2 linked regions of the Homo sapiens genome follow. The protein of the gene in region 2 binds, or shares a complex with, the protein of the main gene of each other region. Each region holds a gene or a part of one and is shown on either strand. Other genes may lie near its edges.

Evidence for each region. The genes of interacting proteins can lie anywhere in the genome.
Region 1: the proteins of F2 (region 2) and FGA are in contact, whole or in part, in a crystal structure (PDB 2A45), measured with the Homo sapiens proteins. Residues at the interface, in NP_000497.1 of Homo sapiens: Phe382, Lys384, Ser385, Gln387, Leu423, Arg425, Tyr434, Glu439, Lys440, Ile441, Ser442, Met443, Lys470; in NP_000499.1 of Homo sapiens: Trp52, Pro53, Phe54, Cys55, Ser56, Asp57, Glu58.

The regions. Positions count from the first base shown.
Region 1 is NC_000004.12:154,587,719-154,595,676, reverse strand, and holds the start of FGA (fibrinogen alpha chain isoform alpha precursor), read left to right. Parts: upstream 1-4,934; 5' UTR 4,935-4,989; coding exon 4,990-5,043; intron 5,044-6,114; coding exon 6,115-6,240; intron 6,241-6,700; coding exon 6,701-6,884; intron 6,885-7,958. UniProt on the Homo sapiens protein: Cleaved by the protease thrombin to yield monomers which, together with fibrinogen beta (FGB) and fibrinogen gamma (FGG), polymerize to form an insoluble fibrin matrix. Fibrin has a major function in hemostasis as one of the primary components of blood clots.
Region 2 is NC_000011.10:46,714,684-46,722,765, reverse strand, and holds the start of F2 (prothrombin preproprotein), read right to left. Parts: upstream 3,554-8,082; 5' UTR 3,531-3,553; coding exon 3,452-3,530; intron 3,065-3,451; coding exon 2,904-3,064; intron 2,244-2,903; coding exon 2,219-2,243; intron 1,977-2,218; coding exon 1,926-1,976; intron 1-1,925. UniProt on the Homo sapiens protein: Thrombin, which cleaves bonds after Arg and Lys, converts fibrinogen to fibrin and activates factors V, VII, VIII, XIII, and, in complex with thrombomodulin, protein C. Functions in blood homeostasis, inflammation and wound healing.

The sequences.
Region 1 (7,958 bases), on a different chromosome or scaffold from region 2:
AGTCATTTCAAAATTTAGAAGATAATTTTAGTACTTTCCAAGAATGCACTTAATATTGTTTTAACAAAATAGTTCCTGTCAAAGTACTATTATCTTCTTGTTATTAGGATACCAAATGTCTTTGGAAAGAATGTACAGATTCATGTAGATTTTTATGATAGATGACATAAGAATTTTTCAGAAACATCTTGTATTTTGAGACCTGAATTAAATCTGACTTTTTAAGAAATATCTCACACAAACAAAACAAAAAGCAATACGTAAGTGATATAACACTCTCTGCTGTGTGTTCTAACAGAACTCAGCATATAGCTTACAGATTTTTTCCATTGTTTTATATTAGATTAAACCGTATAAAACTGTAGATATTATTGTTTTGACCTACAAAAATGTCAAGTTTACATAGTTTAACTTAATTCTCAGCTGCATAACGTATTTGACTTGCTTGCCAATTGTAAGCAACTTGAAGGTAAAAGACTATACATTGTTTGCCTTTTTATCTTAAGCACATAGTATGCAGGACTAGAGAAATAATATACATAGGATAAATGATTGCTAAATTTAGACAAATGAGTGAATGAGTGAGCTGCTCTCAGAAATCAATGCATTTAATTTCTGGTGTCAGCCCAGGGTAAGACAAATATTCCATTCAAAATAACACTGTTGTTTTGTTTTGTATTTTTAAGTTGTATTTATACAATTGCAAATATATAGATAACTGGTTATATATTTTACTTTTCCTGTGGAAGCTGTGATGAGTAGATATAGTTTAAAACTGAAACATATAGCTATAGAATTTCTACTCTTTCTGTATACATTATATACCACACAAATAAAGCTATTAAAACTAGTAAAAACTATTCTAGTCATGCCAAAAGTTATGGCATAACAAATGTGTAAATTCCTGCATTCAAATGTTTATATTAACATTTATATTTAAATGTTTATATTACATTAACTTCAAAAGGATAGATATATCAAACATCCTTCTCATTAGAGCTAAGGTAAATAGGATGTAGTTATCTATAGGAAAAAGACAAACCTGGTGCAGTAGCTCATGCCTGTAATCCCAGCACTTTGGGAGGCTGAAGTGGGTGGAGCACCTCAGGTCAGGAGTTCAAGACCAGCCTGGTCAACATGGGGAAACCCTATCTCTACTAAAAATACAAAAAATTAGCCAGTCATGGTGGTGGGCACCTGTAATCCCAGCTACTCAGGAGGCTGAGGCAGGAAAATCGCTTGAACCCGGGAGGCAGAGGTTGCAGTAAGCTGAGATGGCGCTGTTGCACTCCAGCCTGGGTGGCAGAGTGAGACTCCATCTCAAAAAGAAAAAGCCAATGCACGGCAGATTATAATTTAAGCAACTGAAAATTTCTTCCATCTTTTTTCCAGTTTTGCACATTTAAAGATACGCTTATTGTCACATGCTTTTTAAAAAATGATACTCGTATCATGCCTATTAATTTGCATGGTTTTCCAGCTAAACAAAACCTACTCCTCCAAAGCTTACAATACAGCCTGTTCATGGGGCAGAGAGCCCAGCCTAGTGAGCAGCCTGCAGTGTGGGGCCAAACAGTGAGCTACAGAAGTGCCTCATTAGGGACTCCTGGTACTACAGTCAAAACAAGGGAACATTTTATCATGGAGCATTGGGATATTCTAGGAACAATAAAAGCTACTGTTTCTAGAGCTCCTGCTGTGTATGGCCAACATTTTACATACACCATTTTACATAATCTTCACAGCAATCCTGTAAGACAAATATCATCATCCCATTTATAGCTCAGAGAATTTAAATAGTTTGCCCATGTCACTTAGCTGGAATCCAGGTCTCACATGCTGGAAAGCCCACCATGCATTGTCACCACCATATGGTGACAGCCTTCCATTTCTCCAGCAGATACTGAGCAGCAATTGCTCTATGCCTGACATTTGTGCCAGTCCTTGTGCCTTGGCCTCAGGAAGCTTTGTGTAGGCAAGACACAGAATAAACAAATACCTTCCCAAATGCACATTGTCCAGGAGTTATAAGGTACTGCGTGGAAAAACCAAGCAGAGTCAATGGAATGACATGCGAGAGTGGCAGCTCTTTAGATCAGGTGGCCAGAGAAGGCCTCTCTGAGTAGATGCCATGTGAGCAGAGGCCAGGAGTAAGAAAGGGTGTGAGATGTGCTGATTCTGAGAGGCAAGGATAAAGCCCTCAGGTGGCATCCTTGGAAACACCCTGACATGGCACTAGGGTGGTGGCATTCAACCAAATTGTTTTCTGTTAATTTACCTTCAATCAGATTATGTTCAGCCGACTCACCTAAGGCCTACCAGGTTACTCTCGGGAACTTCTTTGCTATATACCATGTTCACCTCCCAAAGGGGCACTTCTTGTGGGCATAGGAAAATGTGTGCAGAGATCAAGCCTCACCTTCCTATCTAATCCTGACATTTTGCCAGTGCAGTCATTGTGAGTGAGTGTAACCCAGCTTTTCATGGAATCATTGCCCTCTGGAACCTGGATGGGGCTCTGGGGCTTCCTCTTTGCTCTGCAGTTAACTCTAAAATCATAGCAAGCTGCTTCAGGGGTGAGCTTGATCAGACAAGGAGTCTTCCATAGAGCAGACAGTGCACTGCCTTGCACCAGGGCTTCCATCCATTTATAGAAAGCTTCACACGTCTGCAGTGCTGGGGGAGGCAGCCAGGCAACTTCGCATCTCTGGAACCCACTTATGCTTTCTTGCTCAATGAGGGCCCACACCTTTTGGGGAGAATATAAAGACCAATAAAACATTTCAATTCTCAAGTTTATGATCTAGTGGAGGAGACAGACGGTACTCCTATAATGATAAATGCCATTAGTGGTGCACAGTCTAAGGAAGTATGAAAGAACATGAGATTCCTTTTAATTGGACATTGAATCAGGTACCCTGCAAAATGTCTAGCAAAGAACCCAAGACTTAGTAAACATTCAATACACATTAGCTATTACTCTATTAGGATTGGCTTCATGTAGGAAGCAGAATTTGAGGCAAGGTAGGATTGCCAGATAAAGTACAGGATGTCCAGTAAAGTTTGAATTTCAGATGAACAACAAAAAAATTTTAAGTGTGTCTCAAATATCACATGAGACATACTTATACTCAAATAGATTTGTTGTTTATCTGAAATTCAAATTTAACTGGGACACTCTTATTTTTATTTGCTATTTCCGCCAACCTAATACATCTGGTAAATGTAAGCTGAAGATGTTTTTTACCTTTATTGAAGTATAATTGACAAATAAAAATTGCATAATTTAGGTTGTACAGCTGGATGTTTGTTTTTTTATTTTCCTTTAAAGGGGAACTTCTCTCTGATTGGTGTTTTGATACACATAAACATTGTGAAATGATTACCACTATTAATCTAATTAGCACTTAAAACACCTCATATAGTTATCTTTTTGTGTGGTGAGAAGACTTAAGATCTACCTTTTTAGCAAATTTCAAATATACAGCATAATATTATCAACTATAGTCACCATGCTGCACATTGGACTCCAGAACTTATTTATATTGCATAGCTCAAACTTTGTGCCCTCTAACCAACATCTCCCCCATTTCTCCTATGCCTCAGGCCCTGGCCACCACCATTCTACACTTTTCTTCCGTGAGTTTGACTATTTTAGATTTCACATGTAAGAAAGATCATACAGTATTTGTCTTTCTTTTCCGTTTTTTTTTTTTTTTTTGAGAAGGAGTCTCACTCTGTGGCCCAGGCTGGAGTGCAATGATGCAATCTCGGCTCACTGCAACCTCCTCCACCTCCCGCGTTCAAGTGATTCTCCCTGCCTCAGCCTCCTGAGTAGCTGGGATTACAGGTGCCTGTCACCACGACCAGCTAAGCAGTATTTGTCTGTCTATATCTGCTCATTTCACTTAGGATAATGCCCTCTAGGTTCATCAATGTTACTGCAAATGACAGAATTTCCTTCTTTTTCAAGGCTGAGTAATACTCCATTGTGTATATATATATATACACATTTTCTTTATCTACTCATCCATCAGTGGAAACAGGTTGTTTTCATATCTCGGCTATTGTCAATATAGCTACAATGAACATGGGAATGCAGGTGTCTCTTCAAGATCCTGATTTCATTTCCTTTGGAAATACACTCAGAAATGAGATTGCTAGCACAGAAACAGGAAATAAATGGTATTTTTCATGGCACTTTATGATCTCCCATAATTCACTGAGTATTTCCTATGTGACAGTCACTGTTCTGAGAGATTTACAAGAATTAACTCATTTATTCTTCATAAAAGCATGGGGTAGCTTATCAGCATCCTTATTTTATAAATGAGGAAACTGAAGTATAAAGAGGTAAAGTAACTTGTCCAAGAACATAGAGCAGGGAAGTGGTGCAGCTTGGATTATGAACCCAAGATGTTTTGTTCCTGGGGCTGCTGTCATCTTAATATTTTAAATAGAGAAAAGTAATATGTTCTAAATAAACTTATAGAAAGCCTTCAGGGCCAGCTTATCCCCAAAGTTATTTTTTTTATAAGCCAGATCACCCAACCCTAATTTCTGCATAAAGTGAAATATTGTTTGCTAAATCACTACTACTGGGGGCTACAGCTAGCTTACCTAAGCACCTTCTATATTCTTTCACGTTTAGAAATATGGATATACCCTCCTATGCTCCTCTTTTCATTCTCAAAGCCACCCTGTTCCTGGAATGTGAGATCTCCTAATTGTTGACTGGAGAATCAAATGCTACCTTTGCAACAGCTTATCGGAAGCAAACAAGCTGAGGGGAATTGAGCAAGAATTTCTGGGATACCAACAGCATAGGAGGAACAAAGGACGTAGAGGGAGGGTTGACTGTCTACACAGGACAAAGCCAATGATTAACCAAACCTCTTGCAGATTTAAATAGGATGGGAACTAGGAGTGGCAGCAATCCTTTCTTTCAGCTGGAGTGCTCCTCAGGAGCCAGCCCCACCCTTAGAAAAGATGTTTTCCATGAGGATCGTCTGCCTGGTCCTAAGTGTGGTGGGCACAGCATGGGTATGGCCCTTTTCATTTTTTCTTCTTGCTTTCTCTCTGGTGTTTATTCCACAAAGAGCCTGGAGGTCAGAGTCTACCTGCTCTATGTCCTGACACACTCTTAGCTTTATGACCCCAGGCCTGGGAGGAAATTTCCTGGGTGGGCTTGACACCTCAAGAATACAGGGTAATATGACACCAAGAGGAAGATCTTAGATGGATGAGAGTGTACAAACTCACAAGGGAAACTTTAGCATCTGTCATTCAGTCTTACCACATTTTGTTTTGTTTTGTTTTAAAAAGGGCAAGAATTATTTGCCATCCTTGTACCTATAAAGCCTTGGTGCATTATAATGCTAGTTAATGGAATAAAACATTTTATGGTAAGATTTGTTTTCTTTAGTTATTAATTTCTTGCTACTTGTCCATAATAAGCAGAACTTTTAGTGTTAGTACAGTTTTGCTGAAAGGTTATTGTTGTGTTTGTCAAGACAGAAGAAAAAGCAAACGAATTATCTTTGGAAATATCTTTGCAGTATCAGAAGAGATTAGTTAGTAAGGCAATACGCTTTTCCGCAGTAATGGTATTCTTTTAAATTATGAATCCATCTCTAAAGGTTACATAGAAACTTGAAGGAGAGAGGAACATTCAGTTAAGATAGTCTAGGTTTTTCTACTGAAGCAGCAATTACAGGAGAAAGAGCTCTACAGTAGTTTTCAACTTTCTGTCTGCAGTCATTAGTAAAAATGAAAAGGTAAAATTTAACTGATTTTATAGATTCAAATAATTTTCCTTTTAGGATGGATTCTTTAAAACTCCTAATATTTATCAAATGCTTATTTAAGTGTCACACACAGTTAAGAAATTTGTACACCTTGTCTCCTTTAATTCTCATAACAACTCCATAAAATGGGTCCTAGGATTTCCATTTGAAGATAAGAAACCTGAAGCTTGCCGAAGCCCTGTGTCTGCTCTCCTTAATCTCTGTGAGAGTGCCATCTCTTCCTGGGGACTTGTAGGCATGCCACTGTCTCCTCTTCTGGCTAACATTGCTGTTGCTCTCTTTTGTGTATGTGAATGAATCTTTAAAGACTGCAGATAGTGGTGAAGGTGACTTTCTAGCTGAAGGAGGAGGCGTGCGTGGCCCAAGGGTTGTGGAAAGACATCAATCTGCCTGCAAAGATTCAGACTGGCCCTTCTGCTCTGATGAAGACTGGGTAAGCAGTCAGCGGGGGAAGCAGGAGATTCCTTCCCTCTGATGCTAGAGGGGCTCACAGGCTGACCTGATTGGTCCCAGAAACTTTTTTAAATAGAAAATAATTGAATAGTTACCTACATAGCAAATAAAGAAAAGGAACCTACTCCCAAGAGCACTGTTTATTTACCTCCCCAACTCTGGATCATTAGTGGGTGAACAGACAGGATTTCAGTTGCATGCTCAGGCAAAACCAGGCTCCTGAGTATTGTGGCCTCAATTTCCTGGCACCTAATTTATGGCTAAGTGGACCCTCATTCCAGAGTTTCTCTGCGACCTCTAACTAGTCCTCTTACCTACTTTTAAGCCAACTTATCTGGAAGAGATAGGGTAGGAAGAAATGGGGGCTGCATGGAAACATGCAAAATTATTCTGAATCTGAGAGATAGATCCTTACTGTAATTTTCTCCCTTCACTTTCAGAACTACAAATGCCCTTCTGGCTGCAGGATGAAAGGGTTGATTGATGAAGTCAATCAAGATTTTACAAACAGAATAAATAAGCTCAAAAATTCACTATTTGAATATCAGAAGAACAATAAGGATTCTCATTCGTTGACCACTAATATAATGGAAATTTTGAGAGGCGATTTTTCCTCAGCCAATAGTAAGTATTACATATTTACTGCTTTGACTTTATAACAGAAACAACAAAAATCCTAAATAAATATGATATCCGCTTATATCTATGACAATTTCATCCCAAAGTACTTAGTGTAGAAACACATACCTTCATAATATCCCTGAAAATTTTAAGAGGGAGCTTTTGTTTTCGTTATTTTTTCAAAGTAAAAGATGTTAACTGAGATTGTTTAAGGTCACAAAATAAGTCAGAATTTTGGATTAAAAACAAGAATTTAAATGTGTTCTTTTCAACAGTATATACTGAAAGTAGGATGGGTCAGACTCTTTGAGTTGATATTTTTGTTTCTGCTTTGTAAAGGTGAAAACTGAGAGGTCAAGGAACTTGTTCAAAGACACAGAGCTGGGAATTCAACTCCCAGACTCCACTGAGCTGATTAGGTAGATTTTTAAATTTAAAATATAGGGTCAAGCTACGTCATTCTCACAGTCTACTCATTAGGGTTAGGAAACATTGCATTCACTCTGGGCATGGACAGCGAGTCTAGGGAGTCCTCAGTTTCTCAAGTTTTGCTTTGCCTTTTTACACCTTCACAAACACTTGACATTTAAAATCAGTGATGCAACACTAGCTGGCAAGTGAGTGATCCTGTTGACCCAAAACAGCTTAGGAACCATTTCAAATCTATAGATTAAAAAGAAAAGCTCATCAGTAAGAAAATCCAATATGTTCAAGTCCCTTGATTAAGGATGTTATAAAATAATTGAAATGCAATCAAACCAACTATTTTAACTCCAAATTACACCTTTAAAATTCCAAAGAAAGTTCTTCTTCTATATTTCTTTGGGATTACTAATTGCTATTAGGACATCTTAACTGGCATTCATGGAAGGCTGCAGGGCATAACATTATCCAAAAGTCAAATGCCCCATAGGTTTTGAACTCACAGATTAAACTGTAACCAAAATAAAATTAGGCATATTTACAAGCTAGTTTCTTTCTTTCTTTTTTCTCTTTCTTTCTTTCTTTCTTTCTTTCTTTCTTTCTTTCTTTCTTTCTTTCTTTCTTTCTCCTTCCTTCCTTTCTTCCTTTCTTTTT
Region 2 (8,082 bases):
CCACTTGTTTGTTCATCCATGCATCCCACCAGGCCAGGCAGAACTCTGCCTCTCCTGGGAAGCCATCTCTCATTTTTCTGGCAAACCAGACACTCATTTTCCTGTGGTCTCTTGGTGCCTTGAACAGAACTTTTCTTGCAATCACTTTATTGAATTATTTATTTTTATTTATGTATTTTGAGATGAGTCTTGTTCTGTTGCCGAGACTGAAGTGCAGTGGCATGATCTCAGCTCACTGCAACCTCTGCCTCCCAGATTCAAGAAATTCTCCCCCATCAGCCTCCCTAGTAGCTAGGATTACAGGCGCGTGCCACCACACCCCAGCTAATTTTTGTATTTTTAGTAGAGGTTGGGGGTTTCACTATGTTGGCCAGGATGGTCTCAAACCCCTGGCCTGGGCGCCCACCTCAGCTCCCAAAGTGCTAGGATTACAGGCTTGAGCCACCACACCCGGCCGCAATCATTTTAATATTTTGTATTTTTGTTCTCTTTTGAGATTTTGAATTCCTTGAAGGCAGAGACTGTATTTGATTCTCTTAAAATCCCCAGCACCTGATATAGTGCCTGGCACGTAGCAGGAACTTTGTAAAATGTCTGTTGAGTACGTAATTTAACAAATGAGGCTGGGCGCAGTGGATTACACCTGTAATCCCAGCACTCTGGGAGGCTGAGGCTGGTGGATCACCTGAGGTCAGGAGTTTGTGACCAGCCTGGCCAACATGGTGAAACCCCGTCTCTACTAAAAAATACAAAAAATTAGCTGGGCATGGTAGTGTGTGCCTGTAATCCCAGCTACTCAGGAGGCTAAGGCAGGAGAATCACTTGAATCCGCTAGGCGGAGGTTGCAGCGAGCCGAGATCGCGCTGCTGCACTCCAGCCTAGGCGACAGAGTGAGACTCCACCTCAAAAAAAAAAAAAAAAAAATGAAAGTATGGCAGCCAGGCATGGTGGCTCACACTTATAATCCTACTCCTTTGGGAGACTGAGATGGGAGAATTGCCTGAGCCCAGGAGTTCAAGATCAGCCTGGGCAAAAAAGGGAGACCCTGTCTCTTATAAATAAACAAAGAGTTCCATTTTTGTCGTGCTAAAGGTGCCTTCAGAACACAGTGCAGGAGGGAGGGTGCTCCCTGAAGTCTCAGCAAAAGTGGTGACATTTGAAGCAGTCCTTGAAGGATAGGAAAGTGTTCAGTAGATGTGATGGTCGCTCCAGAGGAAATTGACAACATATGCAAGGCCAGGTGCTAGAAACACCTTGGCATGCTTAGGGAAGTCCTTGGTGTCAGAGCAGCTGGGGGTTTGGGTTCCTGTTTGGTTCAGTGACACCTAAAGCTAGAAGGGGAATGTGACATCATCAAAGCTCTGACTAGGTGGGGGCAGAGACTCGGGTCAGGCAAAGGAGAATGAAGCCTTAAACATGAATTCATGGCCAGGCGCGGTGGCTCACTTCTATAATCCCAGCACTTTGAGGCCGAGGTGGGTGGATCACGAGGTCAGGAGTTCAAGACCAGCCTGGCCAACATGGTGAAACCCCGTCTCTACTAAAAATACAAAAATTAGCCAGGCGTGGTGGCGAGCACCTGTAATCCCAGCTACTTGGGAGGTTGAGGCAGAGAATTGCTTGAACCCGGGAGGCGGAGTTTACAGTGAGCCAAGATCGTGCCACTGCACTCCAGCCTGGGCAACAGAGCGAGACTCTGTCTCAAAAAAAAAAACATTAATTCATTAGTCCATTCATTCATTCATTCGTTCGCATGCCAGACACAGAGCCAGGTACAAAGAGACATCTTGACCCCAGGAATGGGAGCAATGTCAGATGCTGGGGACTGCCTCGGCCTCCACCAGCCACACTCCAAACCCACCCCTGAGCTCTTCTCCCAGGCTCCCCTCCATGTCCTGCTCCCCAAACCCGTGTCAGTTGCTCACCTTCCAGACATGCAGCAAGCTTATCTCGAGGCGTCCTCGCTGTCTCACAAGCTGGAAAAGACCCAGGTGTTTACCTTTGGGATTGGGGTATGGCCAGGATGAGCTGGAGTCAGGGTGGATGGGATGTTGGTGAGAAACAGAAAGATGGATGAACAGATGGGAGGGACCAAGGAAGGAGTGGGGAAGGGGTGGATGGGTGGATGGCTAGGTGCAGCAGAAGATTCTCTGGGTAGAATTCTCTCACTGGGGTCCCCAGGCCTCCCTTCCTGGGGCAAATCCTTCCCGGTGCTCACCTGTGTACTTGGCCCAGAACACATCCTGAAAAACAAGGGCTGGGAGTGAGGCTACGGCAGCTCCTGTTTTGTGTTGTTTTAGTAAATGTTATGTCTCCTCCTCACACTTTCCTTTACCCTGGTCACGCAGGGGGCAGGCTCTGGGGAGGTTTGTGGCAGAGTTTCCTACTTTTGTTTCCAAAAGGAGAAGAATATTTGAGGATAGGGGAGTTCCTCCAACACACACACCGAGACTGAAAGAGGCTGGGGGAGATGGGAGGAGAGGGGGCAGTGGGACCCTGGCAGAGCCCTACAGACAGGAAAGGCGACACAGAGCTCCAGGAACACTGAGTCTTGAGCCCGGGGGCTTGTGGTGGCCTCCCCAGAGTCCCACCCCTCAAGGGTGGTGTGGGAGTCTGCCGCTGAGGAGGCCATGTGGACACAGAGCTCCAGGGCAGGTGGATGTCTGAAGACTGTGGAGGCCTCCCCATGTCATGGAGCTGCACAGGGACACAGTCCAGGCACAGAGACCCCCAGGAAAGGCTGAGGCCGCTCCTCTTGCCAGCCCTGTGAGGAGGGGCTCAGAGTTGAAATGAGGCTGTGAGCAGCGAAGGGGCTGTGGCGTTCCTCGCTTGCTTCTCTGTGGAAGTGTCTAGAGTTGGGCCCGGTCTGAGGCCCCGGCACCGTCCGAGCAGCCCAGGCTCACCGTAGCCGTGGAGGACTCCAGAGCCTCGAAGGCCTCCTCGTAGCTGCACGTCTCCTCCACGCACTCTCGCTCCAGGTTGCCCTTGCGCACCTCCTCCAAGAAGGTGTTGGCTCGCCGGACCCGCTGGAGCAGCGACCGTGCTTGCTGAGGAGCCAGGAACACTGTAAGGCGGTGGGGGGGTCATGGGACAGCGGCCTCAGGAACAGGCAGTCTTGGCCATTCTGGGGGCATGAAGCAAGCCCACCCTCCCCTGCTGGCTTCTGAGAGAGGCTGTCTGGGCTGGTGGAAGTGCCTGGAAGGCTGCTAAATGTGGCCCCCTGTGCCCCTCCTACACTGCCCCTTGCCCCCAGCCTGCTCCCTATATTGGAAGAGAGAAGCAGCCATTCTCTTTCCAGCCCTGAGCTCCTGACTTCTTCCCTAAGCTGGCCGCCTGGGGCTGAGACCTACTTAGGGGCCAGCTCTGTGTGCTCTGTCCAGCCAGGAGACCCCAGCCCATGGGCCCACACCCCAGTCCTCCAGCCTGTTCCAGCCTGCAAGCACTCCCTTACCATGCTGGCTGTGCACAAGGCTACACAGGGCAGCCAGGGCCAGGCAGCCAGGCAGCTGCAAGCCTCGGACGTGCGCCATAGTGTGTCAGCTCCTGGGTCACTGAGGAATTGTCTGTCCTGACCCCTCTGGGTTAATGTTGAACTAACATGAAGAAATCAGCGGAGAGGGTGAGGTCAGAGGGTCAGGGCCGTGGGGACGGGTGGGTAGATAGTCCTCCTGTCCATCTCCACCATCTGGGAGGACAGGTCCTCCTGGGAGCAGGGATGGATGGTCTAGGAGGAGTCACAAAAAAGGTCACTGTCACCCCCATCTCCCACCCTCCCCCTCTGAGATTTAGCCCATTCTGGCCAGTGGGGCTATGAGACTTTCCTGGAGCTCCTTCGAATCCTAACATATAGCGGTGGTTGCTTGTCATCTCTGTGTGCCTCAGTTTCCTCATCTATACAATGGGAATAATACTTTGTTGTGAGGACTAAAGGAGATTAGGAATGGAATGTCCATGGAATATCGTAAGTTCTTAATCAGATCTGCACATATAGGCCAATGTGGGGGTTTGTATAATCATAATACACAGATATCAAAAATAGAGACAAAGATAAAAGGTGTGGCCTGATGGAAGTTGCCCCTCGCCATGGGATGCACCAGGGATAGGAACAGCCAACATTTGCCCCAGCTTCTCAGCCACTGGAGGAGGGGCCCATTTCTCCTCCTTCCTGTCCAGGGTGCCTGGAGGTGTGTTTGTGTGTGGCAGCTGCCTGGGAGGAGTCAGGTCCAGGGACTCTTGGGCCTTTAGTCTATCTTCTGTCACCTCCCAGGACCTGCGCCTGTCCCGGAACAGGGGCTACTGAAATCCCTGGGTCTCCACTGAGGGGCCCTCCTTCTCCCTGGCTGCCTGCCCCATGGCAGGCCTAGAGAGGCTTCTGGTCCTACCCTACCCTCCGCCCTACTCCTGTCCCTCCCCCATTTCCTGTTTGCAGTACCCAAGGCAAATATTAGTCTAAGTAGGACAGAGGGACAAAGAGCAGGAACACGGGGAGGCACAAGTTCTCGCCTCGCCTCACCTGTCCTTTGGGCCTGGCTGTTTGGGGTCTGGACCAGGTCATGTGTGGGAACAGGGAGTGTTGGCAGAAAAACTGGGGACCAGGACTCCCGCAAACACCTTAATTCCTGGGAGGCCCATTTCTTATATATTTTCATATATATATTTTTAGGCCAGGCATAGTGGCTCACACTTGTAATCCCAACACTTTGGGAGGCCGACATGGCAGGATCGCTTGAGGCCAGGAGTTTGAGACCAGCCTGGGCAACATAGCAAGACCCTCATCTCTACCAAAAAAAAATTAAAAATTAGCTGGGAATGGTGGTGCATGCCTGCAGTCTGAGCTACTGAGGAGGCTGAGGCAGGAGGATCACTTGAGCCCAGGAGTTCCAGGCTGCAGTGAGCTATGATTGCACCACTGTACTCCAGCCTGGGTAACAGAGTAAGATCCTGTTTCTTTCTTTCTTTCTTTCTTTCTTTTTTTTTTTTTTTTTTGAGACGGAGTCTCGCCCTGTCACCCAGGCTGGAGTGCAGTGGAACAATCTCGGCTCACTGCAATTTCCATCTCCCTGTTCAAGTGATTCTCCTGACTCAGTATCCCAAGTAGCTGGAATTACAGGCGTGTGCCACCACACCTGGCTAATTTTTGTATTTTTAGTAGAGATGGGGTTTCGCCACATTGACCAGGATGGTCTCGAACTCCTGACCTCAGGTGATCCGCCCACCTCCACCTCGGCCTCCCAAGTGCTGGGATTACAGGCGTGAGCCACCATGCCTGGCCTGAATGAGACCTGTTCCTAGAAAAATAAAATAAAATAAAATAAAATTGAATAAATAAAATAAAATTATAATATATATTTTGGGTTTTTGTTGTTTTGTTTTTGAGATGGAGGCTGGAGTGCAATAGCGTGAACTCGGCTCACTGCAACCTCTACCTCCTAGGTTCAAGCGATTCTCCTGCCTCAGCCTCCCGAATAGCTGGAACTACAGGCACCCGCCATCATGCCTGGCTAATTTTTGTATTTTTGTAGAGACAGAGTTTCACCATGTTGCCCAGGCTGGACGTGAACTCCTGACCTCAGGTGATCTGCCCACTTTAGCCTCCCAAAGTGGGGATTACAGGCGTGAACCACTGCTACCTACCTGTTGGGTTTTTTTGTTTGTTTTTGTTTTGTTTTGTTTTGTTTTTTTGAGATGGAGTCTCACTCTGTCACCCAGAAAGGAGTGCAGTGGCGTGATCTCAGCTCACTGCAACCTCGGCCTCCTGAGTACAAGTGATTCTCCTGCCTCAGCCTCCCAAGTAGCTCCCAAGTGCATGCTAGGGATTACAAGCATGCACTACCACGCCCAGCTAATTTTGTATTTTTAGTAGAGATGGGGTTTCACCATGTTGGTCAGGCTGGTCTCGAACTGCTGACCTCAGGTGATCCACCTGCCTCGGCCCCCCAAAGTGCTGGGATTACAGGTATGAGCCACTGCCCGGCCTCTTTGCAGACTTTTACTCACAGTTGCAGGCCTGTTCAGTATATGACATTCTTATACCCAGAAATGGCTATCTTAGCCTGGGCTGCTATAAAATTACTGTAGGCCAGGTGCAGTGGCTCACGCCTGTAATCCCAATACTTTGGGAGGCCGAGGCGGGCCGATCACAAGGTGAGGAGTTCGAGACCAGCCTGGCCAACATAGTGAAACCCCGTCTCTACTAAAAACACATAAATTAGCTAGGCATGGTGGCACACACCTGTAATCCCAGCTACTCGGGAGACTGAGACAGAAAAATTGCTTGAACCCAGGAGGCAGAGGTTGCAGTGAGCCGAGAGTGTGCCAATGCACTCCAGCCTGGGCGACAGAGCAAGACTTCATCTCAAAAAAAAAAAAAAATTACTGTAAACTGGGTGGTTTAAACAACAGACATCTACAAGGGGTCTTCGAAAAGTTCATGGAAAATGCGTATTATGAAAAAAGACTGCATGGATTTAAAAAAATTTTTGTGCACCAAAATAAACTCACACTAACTTGCTATAACATGAGTGAACAGGATGTAGTTTGAGGCACTAAGAAGGATAAGACATCAGTTTGAAGCGAGCCCTTATCAGAGCTAAATGAATTCTGCTGAAATTGAAGCAAGAACAAACAACAAATTTACGGTGAAGCTTGGGTGGAAGAATGGTGAAATCACTGATGCTTTATGAAAAGTTTACGGAGACAATGTCCCAAAGAAATCAGCAGCTTACAAATGGACAACTCATTTTAAGAAGGGACAAGGCAGGCCGGGCGCGGTGTCTCATGCCTGCAATCCCACCACTTTGGGAGGCCGAGGCAGGTGGATCACTTGAGGACAGGAGTTCAAGACCAACCTGGCCACCATGGAGACACCTCGTCTCTACTAAAAATAAAAAAATTAGCTGGGCATGGATGTGCGTGCCTATAGTCTCAGCTATTTGGGAGGCTGAGACAGGAGAATAGCTTGAACCCGGGAGGCGGAGGCTGCAGTGAGCTGAGATCGTGTCACTGCACTCCAGCCTGGGCAACAGAGCAAGACTCTTGACTCCCAAAAAAAAAAGACATTTTTTGGACAAACAAAAACACTTAAATATAGGTTAGGTGTTTAGTGCACTACCATGGGTGCAGGACAACAATGGACCCAGCACATGCTTAGTCTTCAGGGTCTGATACAAGCCCCCAGCCTCCAGGAACCAACTGTTTGTTCTCCTTGGAACTCTGAGGTCCCTAGTTGGTACCATGCAGCCAAGTTTGGCATTCCTGCCGTTCAGCACAAACACGGCCTGCATACTTAAAGCAGACATATATATATTTTTTGTGTGTGAGACGGAATCTTGCTCTGTTTCCCAGGCTGGAGTGCAGTGGCATAATCTCGGCTCACCGCAACCTCCGCCTCCTGGGTTCAAGTGGTTCTCTTGTTTCGGCCTCCCAAATAGCTGGGATTACAGGTGTGTGCCACCACACCCAGCTAATTTTTGTTATTTTTAGTAGAGACAGGATTTCACCATACTGGCCAGGCTGGTCTCAAACTCCTGACCTCAGGTGATCTGCCCGCCTTGGCCCCTCAAAGTGCTGGGATTACAGGCCTGAGCCACCACACCCGGCCTTAAAGCAGATATTCTTGCCCTATAGGAGCAAGGCCATAACAAAGCGGGGGGCAGGGGGTGCATTCCTGCCCAACAAGTTGGCGTCAAACAAAATCATGGGTAAAGACCAATGCTAAATTGTAAAGCAAATCTCTATAACCACTGAAAACAGTAAAATTATGTTCCAAGACATAGTGTTAGAGAATTTCAGGGCTCAAAGAAAGACCAGATATTATTAAATCCAGCCATTTCCAAGCCTAGGGCTGTGTGCACGTTCTACGGGGTGGCCTTGTCTTTCTGCATATATTTTGTTAAAACCTCAAAAATTGTGAATTTGCCTTATTAAGACAAAAATGAATTTTTTTCCCTTTCGACTGAAATTTTTTCTCTTTAGGTGGTGAATAATCTTATGTTTTTCTCAATCTGATCAGCAGTTTTCAATTTTTTATTTCTTTTTTTTTTTTTGCTCTTCTGCAGACAGTGACTTAAGCAGTTTTCTATT